Regions from separate parts of the Homo sapiens genome. Here region 1 is linked to region 2. The links come from fine-mapping of genetic effects on gene expression. Tissue or cell type: prefrontal cortex. Region 2 holds a variant in brackets; the other region holds the start of a gene. All regions are shown on one strand. Distances are between the middles of the regions.

Region 1 (5,353 bases), 23 kb after region 2:
AGAGACAGTCGTGAAACAGCTGAGAAGTTTGGTGAATGGTATGTCCCAGCACATGTAGACCTCACATGGCTTGCACTCAGTGACACCAAATCCATGATTCAATGTTGATCTTGAGCAAGTATTGGTCATGATACAGTAATTTGTTTACAGAATCCAAAAATACAATAGAGAAGATACATGAGGGCTTAAACAAGAAATAGTAATAAATATCATTTGTATGGATTTTTAAATAATCGAATACTATTTTATATATGGAAAAAAATGACCATTTTTTCACTTTTAGGGGAAAATGCAAAAGTGTAATACATAAATTGTCACAAATTATACATGAAATTGATTACAAATACATTTGAAAAACATATGCCTCTACTCATAAGTATTTTTTTCTATTTAGACTTGAATGATAATCTGTTTTTTGATCAGTATATGGCTTTGGAATTCAATCATGTCTGATATGGTAGTATTTCACTACCATTTTCTGACTTTTAGCTTTTATTTTCACCTCAATGTGATTTAAGCAGACCAAAATTTCTAATTCTGCTAATTCTGAAGGGGAAATAGACAAATCTTAAAAGCTGCCTGAAATCAAACTTGATTTAACTCAGTAAGAATGTGAATTATTTGTTCTACTTGGGTGGTTTAATTTAATCGTTCTGAATATGAACAAAAGGTTTTGGATTTTCTAAAGATGCAGTGTTGTTTCTGTTCATCAGGGTTAATATTTCTAACTATATTGCTTGTAGGTGACCCCATTCTGGATTTGTTTGGTTTGGTTTGGTTCCAGTTAAAAGAGAGGACAGGAACTAAATGGGGCTAACCACTTCAGGTGCAGCTTGTGCGAGGGTAGATGGTTCCTGCACACAGAAGTTACCACAGGGGTCAGGTTACTTTCTTCAAATAGCAGATTTCAGTACTTTATCCTCATTGTGGAAACAAGCCAAACCAAATGAACTCTGGAAAACCTAAAACAAATGTACATTTTCCTTTGTGTATGTTTCCGTGGTCCAAATGGCAATATAAATCCAGTCTTTATTCTCCCTTTGTTGTATTTATGCTGAATCTTCCCTTTGCCTTTTCAGGATTTAGGCCTGTAAGAAACTATGCCTGATTCTGTAAAATAAGTGTAAAGAATTATATGTACATCTCTGGATTTTGTGATGAAATATTAAAAATATTGAGCAAGTTGTTGAAAATGCATTACTATTTTGTCTATTCAGAGCTTACTGATTTAAAACAAGTGCTTCCTGGAGAAAAGGCATATTATTTCCTAGTTACTGGAATGGGAGTGGCACCAAAACAGTATATATACATACACACACACACACACACACATATATATACATATGCGCACTTGTTCTCTCGATCATCTCTTAATCCAAAGTATTTAATGTTTTTAAAAATATTACATGAAAAGCATGGTAGTTCTTCAGGCACGGTGAAATCTGGAGGAGAGGAGCGGTGAACAGCTAGCTCTCTTTGAAGACTGGAATGGGGCTGCCCTTCGCGCCTTACCCAGCCTTCCAGCGTACTTGGGGTGTCTTCCCTGCTTTGGCTGAGACGTCCCGGGATTCAGAGAGATACTGCCTTTGCACTGCCTGGAGGAGACCACTGTGGGACCTCTTTACTCTTACCAATAATATAAACACCCTGCACCCCTCCACACACACCCCAGGTTGCACTGTAGGGACAAGAACGAGTGAGTCCTGAGGCATTTGGAACCCTTGAATGGGACGCACAAAGCCCAAAACGCAACAATGTAGATTGACAAGAGTCGTCGGGCAAACTCGGGGGAGGGAGGGAAGGATGTGCAGGGAAGGATGAATTCGGTCCTTGAGACCGGAAAGGTGCTCGTGGGTATCCGCTTCTGGAGGCTTAGGACGTCTTTATGAAGCCTAGGGCAGTAGTGGAACTGCCATCTTTGGAAGGATACCTGACGTGGTAGATCAGAGAGCCGGGAGAGGTGGGGAGCTGTCGGAGAATCTCGGCTGCGCTATCCCTCCTGGGCTTTTGCGATGCCAACGCAGGCGTCGACGACTGCAGTTTCCCTGAAATAGTCGGAGCAAAGGAGAGAAAAGCCCAGTTCTTTCACCTTGGAGTGGCGAGAGAAAGGCACCTAGAAGCTCGAGGGCGGGGACGGCAGAGGGAGCCAGCGGCCGGGGGTGGGCCAGGAGCACTGCGGGGCGCAAGCCCGGGTCAGTTCTGCGCGTTGGGTTCGCCCACTTTCTGAGCGCCTGCGAAGAGCGGGGAAGCTCTGGCGCGAACCCGCAGGCCCCGCCCGAGGACGCTCGCGGGGCGAGCCCCCAGCCCAGCTCGAGCCGCCCCGGCGCCTGCCACTCCCTACTCAGAGCCCCTCCGTGAGCGCGCCGCTGCCCACCGCCTCCAATCACCACTCTGCGTGGAGCGCTTTAAATATGCAAAGACACGTCACGTTGTGTGAACCGGGATCGGTCCGTAGGGGGGGAGCCAATATCTATATAAACGTGTCCAGCGTGGGCCAAGAAGGGTTAAACGACTGGAGGAGGGACAGGTGGGGCGGGGGTCTGCAGACCAGGTTGGCAACACTGGTGAGTTGCTCTTCTTTCGCCCTCCTTCCCTTCTTCTATCCAAAGGGTGCTGAGCCCGGGAGGAGGTGGGAGGTGCCCCGCGGAGCCGGGAGTGAGCGTTCCCGAGGCAGCAGGCACCTTCGAGAGGGACTGGCATTTGGGCCCAGGAGCCAGGAAAAAGTCCTGAGCGTGCCGGCCTCGAGGAAGGCACGTTCCCTAAGGGCGCACGGTCACTGCAGTCTTTCACCGTCCGTCTGTTTTTAGAACAGAGTTCTGGCCTGAGCTTATAAATCTCGGGCTTTGCCCCCAAACCCCAGGCCTTTTGCGGACGGAACAGGTGAGCACTGCGCACTGCTCGCGCCCCGGTTCTTGCGTCCCCTGCTCTCCCTGCGCTCTGAGCGGCCTGGCCCCCGCGGGCTCATCATGTTCCCTTGGGGGCTGAGCTGCCTGTCAGTGCTGGGGGCGGCGGGCACTGCTCTCCTGTGCGCGGGCCTGCTGCTCAGCCTGGCCCAGCACCTCTGGACCCTCCGCTGGATGCTGAGCCGGGACCGGGCCTCCACCCTGCCTCTGCCCAAGGGCTCCATGGGGTGGCCCTTCTTCGGCGAAACGCTGCACTGGTTAGTTCAGGTGAGCAGTCCTTCGACCCCGAGCGCTAATACGGTCCCTTCTTCCCCCGGCTCCCACTGGACCCTCCTCAGTCTCAATGCCCATGGGATTTGTAGCCAGTCCCTGCCCATCGCCCACGACCCCGGGAAGCGCGCACAACTCTCGCCTTTACCTAGATACTCCGTTCCCTCGAAGGGACCTCAAGTCACTGGAATTCCCCCCAGAGCAACTCCCAGACACAACGCAGGGGGTAAACATAAGGGGTTTTAGGAAGGGGTCTGAGGAGCACGTCCTGCAAGGGTAGAAAAGGAGCCTGGAGCTTGGCCCAGCTGTGAGCCCTTGGGCCCTCACTTCTTCACTCTGAGTCTGTTTCCTCATCTCACCAATAGGAACAGGAGCATGTACATTCCCGTAGAGTAGATACCAGGCCCACTGGGGATCTTGTTTTGTAAACGCGCCAGCCAGGGACAGGAAGTTGTGATCAAAAGGCAGCTGGAAGGTCTGGGTCAGATCCCAGCCCAGGCCCAGAAGTTCCAGCTCTCCACCCTCCGCCTCGCCCGCAGGGCTCGCGCTTCCACAGTTCTCGCCGAGAGCGCTATGGGACAGTGTTCAAGACGCACCTGCTGGGCAGGCCAGTGATCCGCGTGAGCGGCGCGGAGAACGTGCGCACCATCCTGCTGGGCGAGCACCGCCTGGTGCGCAGCCAGTGGCCGCAGAGTGCGCACATCCTGCTGGGCTCGCACACACTGCTAGGTGCGGTCGGCGAGCCGCACCGGCGGCGGCGCAAGGTGAGTGGAAACGGGAATGGACCGTAGATACGTCGGATCCGCGGTCCCCGGCATCTGCCATGGGCCAGGCCGGGGCCCCGGTGTTGGATACACTGTGAACCCGACCAAGGTCCCTGGTAACTAGCGGGTGGCCTTGGGCGGGTCCGTTACCTTCAGCTTCGGTTTATAAAGTTAGGACTGCGCTAAAAGATTCTTTCATCTCCCATCTTCCGTGGCTGTGATAGCAGAAGCGCTGGAGACTCAGACCTAGAAAGGGGCCAGGGAAGACTTCTTAGAGGAGATGGCAGCTGGAGCCTGGATGGTTGGGAGGGACTGTGTGCATCAGAGCAGAACTGGGGGAAATGGCGAAAGCAAAAGCCAGGAAGTTTAGGTCTGGGCCGCTTGGAAGAGGGAGAAAGGACCGGAACTGGCCTTCTGGCTACTCCGGAATCGCCAAGCAGATGAGGCCAGACCGCCGCCAGCGCTGATCACGCGCGCTCCCACAGGTCCTGGCGCGCGTGTTCAGCCGCGCCGCGCTGGAGCGCTACGTGCCGCGCCTGCAGGGGGCGCTGCGGCATGAGGTGCGCTCCTGGTGCGCGGCGGGCGGGCCGGTCTCAGTCTACGACGCCTCCAAAGCGCTCACCTTCCGCATGGCCGCGCGCATCCTGCTGGGGTTGCGGCTGGACGAGGCGCAGTGCGCCACGCTGGCCCGGACCTTCGAGCAGCTCGTGGAGAACCTCTTCTCACTGCCTCTGGACGTTCCCTTCAGTGGCCTACGCAAGGTACGGCCGCCCCGGCTCCAGACCTTCCTCCGAGGCTCCGCGGCGCGGGCGGGCCTCCCAGACCCAGACGGGACGCCCTCGGCGCACCCCGCGCGTCCGTCACCTCTGCTGGGAACGGCGGCAGGGCCCGGGGGTGGGAGGCGTTGTGGCGGTGGCGTGGCGGTGGGCTCTGGGCCTGGCCTCTGTGCTGGTTCGCTGGTGTGACCTGGGGCTGGCCACACGACCTCCGTGGGACGCGCCTGCCGCGACGCGCTCCAGCCTGAGCAAGCGCGGGCCGCCAGAGTTTGGGGTCTCGGTGGCAGGCGTCCTGCCAGTCGGTCGGACTCCTTCCCACAGCGGCGCCCCTGGGGCCGGCCTCCATCACCTCTTCGGAAGCCCAGATGGCTGCGGAACCGAGGAGAGCGTGAGGGCTGCAGATGAGCCCCGGTCCAGCCCAGCGCCAGCCCCGGACCCAGGGGTGTGGGCGTCAGCTCCACCAGCCCTGGACCCGCTAGGTTTCGGGATCAGAGAACTGCTGCTTCTCCAGACTTCAGAACAATGGGCAGGACCCGGAGAGCAGCTAGGATGCCCCATCCCGCCTTTTGGTCCCCCTATTCTGGGACTTCCCACTGTTTGATTCCCTGGTTTTCAGTCACCTGCATAAAAATAATATGTG
Region 2 (5,374 bases):
GGTGGCTCACGCCTGTAATCCCAACACTTAGGGAGGTTGAGGTGAGCGGATCACTTGAGGCCAGGAGCTCTAGACCAGCTTGGCCAACATGGCAAAACCCCGTCTCTACTAAAAATACAAAAATTAGACGAGTGCATTGGCATATGCTTGTAATCCCCACTAGTTGGGAGGTTGAGACATGAGAATTGCTTGAACCTGGCCTGCGGAGGTTGCAGTGAGCCAAGATCTTGCCACTGCACTCCAGCCTGGATGACAGATCAAGACTCTGTCTCCAGAAAAACAGAAACGAAAACACAGGAAGTAGATATTGTATGTTCACTGTTAAACTAAAATCAAACCTAAAAAGAAAGCTCTCAGGCCGGGCACGGTGGCTCACACCTGTAATCCCAGCACTTTGGGAGGCCGAGGCGGGCAGATCACCGAAGGTCGGGAGTTCAAGACCAGCCTGACCAACATGGAGAAACCCCATCTCTACTAAAAATACAAAACATTAGGCATGATGGCGCATGCCTGTAATGTCAGCTACTTGGGAGGCAGAGGCAGGAGAATCACTTGAGCCTGGGAGGTGGAGGTTGCAGTGAGCCGAGATCACACCATTGCACTCCAGCCTGGGCAACAAGAGTGAAACTCCATCTCAAAAAAAAAAAAGAAAAAAAAGAGAAAGCTCTTATTTTCCCCTCCTCTTCAGTCTTTCACAGTCATTATTTCCCTCCAGACCTTTGTAGTGTACATTCGAACATGTATACATGCAGATACTTACATGCACACATGTAGTTATTTCCTTTTTGGGGGAGGTATGTTATAATTCACATTTTTCATGCAACATATGCTTTCATATTGGTAAATATGGATGTTTCATTCTTTTTAATTTCTTTGTACTGTCTATAGTGTACATATACCATAATTTATTAAACAAGTCCTCATTTGTTGGACATTATGGATTCTTTAGTTTTGTCTATCTATTAATGAAGCTGCCATTAATATATTTATACATATATATCGAGCACTTGTGTAAGTATTTCTGTAGGCCTTTAGAAGTGGAATTACTGGGTACTGCTGAAAAAGCTCTCCAAAAAAGTATATAAATCAGAATTATTTTTAAAAGAGATACGTAACTTGGCAATATGACAATAAATAAAGCTAACAGATTTATGGAAAAAATTAAGTCATTTAAGTTTGCAGTTGGGCAAATACAGAATATTTCTTATTTACAATATAAGCATTATTGTAATATGATACATTTTAAGGTAAATTTTCAGTGAGTTACACAAGGATTAAATCTTTGTTTCCACAGACTGTGCATAATGTAAAAAGAGACAGTCCCAGATTTACCTGTTTTCAATTATCAATATTCCTGCTCTTTTTTTCACTGAAAGGGATAGGTTAAAATTTTTAGAACAGTTTGTCAACTATGGAGGGTAGTGATATTCTGGCCTTTGATAAATATCATATATGCAGTAAACTAATGATTAACTATTAACATTGGCATTACTCAACAAGGAGCTATATCTTTTCTCTCAAAATTAATTCACATTTTTGCCAAACTTCCTTTCTTCTTCTACTTTTTTTTTTTTTTTTTGGAGACAGGGTTTCTCTGTCGCCCAGGCTGGAGTGCAGTGGTGTGATCATGGCACATTGCAGCCTCAACCTCCCCAGGCTCAGGTGATCCACCTCAGCCTCCGGAGTAGCTGGGACTACAGGTGCATGCCACCACACCCAGCTGATTTTTGTATTTTTTGTAGAGGCAGAGTCTTGCCATGTTGCCCAGATTGTTCTGAAACTCCTGGCCTCAAGCGATCCACCTCAGCCACCCAATGTGCGGGGATTAATAGGGCCACTACATCCAGCCCTATTATTCTCCATTTTTTTTTTTTGAAATGGAGTTTCTCTCTTGTTGCCTAGGCTGGAGCATAGTGGTGTGATCTCAGTTCACTGCAGCCTCTGCCTCTCAGGTTCAAGCGATTCTCCTGCCTCAGCCTCCTGAGTAGCTGGGATTACAGGCACGTGCCACCACACCCAGCTAGTTTTTCTATGTTTAGTAGAGGCAGGGTTTCGCCATTTTGGCCAGGCTGGTCTCAAACTCCTGACATCAGGTGATCCGCCTGCCTTAGCCTCCCAAAGTGCTGGGATTACAGGTGTGAGCCACCGCACCTGGCTATTACTCATTTTTAAGAAATATTTTTCTCGGGCCGGGTGCGGTGGCTCACGCCTGTGATCCCAGCACTTTGGGAGGCCGAGGTGGGCGGATCACGAGGTCCGGAGATCGAGACCACGGTGAAACCCCGTCTCTACTAAAAATACAAAAAAATTAGCCGGGCGCGGTGGCGGGCGCCCGTAATCCCAGCTGCTCGGAAGGTGGAGGCAGGAGAATGGCGTGAACCCGGGAGGCGGAGCTTGCAGTGAGCCGAGATCGCGCCACTGCACTCCAGCCTGGGCTACAGAGCGAGACTCCGTCTCCAAAAAAAAAAAAAAAAAAAAAAAAAATTTTTCTCTAATAAATTTTTTTTGTTGACTGGAAATTTTTTTTTTTGTTACAGGTTTCTTTCAGTTTGGAGGATAGTTATGGGAAGTTTAAATATTTAAATGCTTTGTTAGAAAAACAGTAAATGCACTGTTTGTTTTACATACTAGTGGATATTATAACCACAATTCCTATTTTCAGTTATGATCTTTTTGCTACATAAAATAATATTCCCTAGACAACCTATACTGTATTTGCCATATCAAGTGTGAATCTGACAACAGAGTTCTAAAAAAATCCTACTAAGCATTCTTTTTGAAAGCAGATTGGCTACACATACAAATAAAAAGAAATGTTTGTGTAAATTAAGCCATCCTAGTCTAATTGTTTAAGCAGTTAATTTATAAATTGAAGAAATTATCTTCTAA[T/A]CCTATTTTACATATAAATTTGAACATGACACGTAATTTCCCTGAAAGTCAACTTCTACTTTTATAGAGAACAGCCAGCACTCTACTTGAATGAGACGTATATATACATGACAGAGTTCTAGACTCAAGCAATATTGATTCAACAATATTGAGCTTTCCAGTGGTTTAAATTAGAAGCTTTTTCATGTATAATCTCTGCTTTTCCTTCATGGCTGTTTTGTCCCAGAAGAGACACAGTTCTTAAACTTTTGCTTCTTAAAGTGTTCTATGAAATATAATTTAGCTCAGTTCAACAAGCTTTGAGTACCCTAAAGGGAGAAGAGCTATTACCTCTACCCTTGAAGAACTCAAAATTTGATTAGAAAGTGAAAACAAACATACAAAGGAAAAGTAAGTATATGTACACACTCCGCACTTTAGGAAGTTATCAATGGCCCATAGAGCCACCTATCTTCTAATTTAGATGGTGCAGAGAACTCAACGCTGCCAACACTTTGCTAGCACTTCAAAGGGATGTATTCTTCCACCTATATATGTATATATATATATACCATCTATTAAAAAAGGCCGGTCATGGTGGCTCATGCCTGTAATCCCAGCACTTTGGGAGACCAAAAGGTCAATAGTGACCTCTTCAGAGCCAAGTGGATAATAGTTGTCATGAAAATTTTTACTAATATACACCAAAAGGCTGATATTGCTGAAGGTATTTTTTTTATTTGAGACTACCATTTATAGCATTATTCTCTAAACTTCCTCTTAGATATGCATTGCAGTGCTTAGTACTCATAGTTAAGTCACTGTTTAGTCCCTAGAGTATTTTGCAATGTATATTTCTCTCCTTTTCTTTGAACCCATTTGTGTTTTCGTAAATGTCAGAACATCTACCAATTACCTTCAAATTGTGATTCAGTGATTTTCATGGTCATAAAATCCTAAGACTTGAGGATTGGAAGGGACTTCCAAAAATCTAACCCCTGGCTCCAAACCTCTTAGAAGCTCTCCCCAGCAAGTGCCCTTGCTGCTGCTCCAGATATCTGGACATTCACCCCATCCAAATAGAGGCTTCTCTTCCCTTTTGAAAATCTCAGGGCAGCCTCCACCATTTCTCTCTGAGACTTGGTCAGACACTGCTGTTTCTGTTACTTCTCAGTCACACATCCTTCATCTGAGAAGATTAAAATAAAATTTGATTATTCAATGAAATTAAGTAGTTTCCACTTCCTTACTCTACTCCTTCTCACCTTCCAACTTTTTTCCTGTTTCATTCACTCCTTGTTTTGTCTACTCATCTTTTCACTTCTTCTGGCCCACTTATTCTATGCCACCTGAAAACCCTCATTGCAATGTAAATGGCCCTACTGCTTCAACTGTGTGGCAGAATGCTTTCTTCACCTCCTTTTCATAGAATTCGGAGGATACTGCTAACCCTGCAGCTCTCTCTAGTGGCAGGATGCATTCTTTCATGGCTACACGTGTGAATGAGATTCGTGTTCCCCTGGTTCCTCATTTCTATTTGTAGACCATTGTTCCTCCACTCTTGAGTGAAAGCTCCAGCCCCTCTGAGCCTCTTGTCTTCCATCTCTATCACCATCAACCTCTCACTGTTGCTTTTGCAGTCAGCTTATCTATATCCACACCCATTCTTCCTGTCCTTCATTCTCAGGTGTTAGGAAGCCTTTTTAATGAGGCTCTCATCTTCCTATGCCCTTGACCCTATCTTTTGTATGGGATTTTGTTTCATTTTGTTTCATTATTCATCTGCCTTTCCTCTGCTTTATCCTTTTCTTTTTTTTGAGACGGAGTCTCACTTGTTGCCCAGGCTGGAGTGCAGTGGCGTGATCTCGGCTCACTGCAAGCTCCGCCTCCCAGGTTCACGCCATTCTCCTGCCTCAGGCTCCCAAGTAGCTGGGACTACAGGTGCCTGCCACCACCCTGGCTAATTTTTTGTATTTTTAGTAGAGGCGGGGTTTCACTGTGTTAGCCAGGATGGTCTTGATCTCCTGACCTCGTGATCCACCTGCCTTGGCCTCCCAAAGTGCTGGGATTACAGGCGTGAGCCACTGCGCCCGGCCTGCTTTATCGTTTTCTTAGCCTAAAAACATTTTAGCTATTTCCAATTTCTCTTCCCTCATTTGCATCCTTAAAAGAGTGGTTTATAATTGATTATTCTTATTTTCACATCTCTCATTCATTTCTCAATCCATTCCTATCTGCTTTGCCACACTGCTGAAATAGTGTTCACTTAGGTCACCAGGGAAGGCCAGTAGACATTTTTAGCCCATATCCTATTGGTTCTTTCTGCTGCATTTGGTAATGTGGATCATGTTCTCTTTAAAATTCTCTCGTCTTCTGAGTCTGTACTCCCTTAACATCCTTCCTCTTTCTTTTCTGTGGTCTCCTTTTCTGCCCCCTAAATGTTGGTTTCCCCAAGGTTTCTGTCCTTAGAACACTGCTCCCTATACTCCTGACCTAGGTGAGCTGA

Which allele goes with the higher level. Positions count from the first base shown, and alleles are read on the strand shown. Sizes are in standard deviations (SD) of each study's normalised expression.
For the expression in prefrontal cortex of the gene that starts at base 2,501 in region 1, allele T in region 2 goes with a higher level than allele A (moderate effect, 0.49 SD a copy in BrainSeq).

Evidence for each region. PIP is the estimated chance that this variant, and not a neighbour inherited with it, causes the effect. A credible set is the group of variants that fine-mapping cannot tell apart.
Region 1: CYP26C1 starts here. The variant in region 2 is the best candidate, but not a certain one, in a credible set for the expression of CYP26C1 in prefrontal cortex (BrainSeq, PIP 0.58).

What each region holds. Positions count from the first base shown.
Region 1 is chr10:93,058,298-93,063,650 of GRCh38, forward strand. It overlaps CYP26C1 (cytochrome P450 family 26 subfamily C member 1), which reads left to right and starts at 2,501. Exons shown (of 6, transcript NM_183374.3): 1 at 2,501-3,170; 2 at 3,713-3,937; 3 at 4,423-4,698. The coding sequence starts at 2,967. EXOC6 (exocyst complex component 6) reads left to right here. Exons shown (of 22, transcript NM_019053.6): 22 at 1-1,193. The coding sequence ends at 58. RefSeq lists enhancers at 2,519-3,428, 4,382-4,501, 4,512-4,681.
Region 2 is chr10:93,035,583-93,040,956 of GRCh38, forward strand. All of the region lies in intron 20 of EXOC6 (exocyst complex component 6), which reads left to right. Among named protein-coding and RNA genes, the nearest start is that of CYP26C1, 23 kb to the right of the region's middle. RefSeq lists a silencer at 4,190-4,484. The variant T/A (reference allele first, on the strand shown) is at 2,890.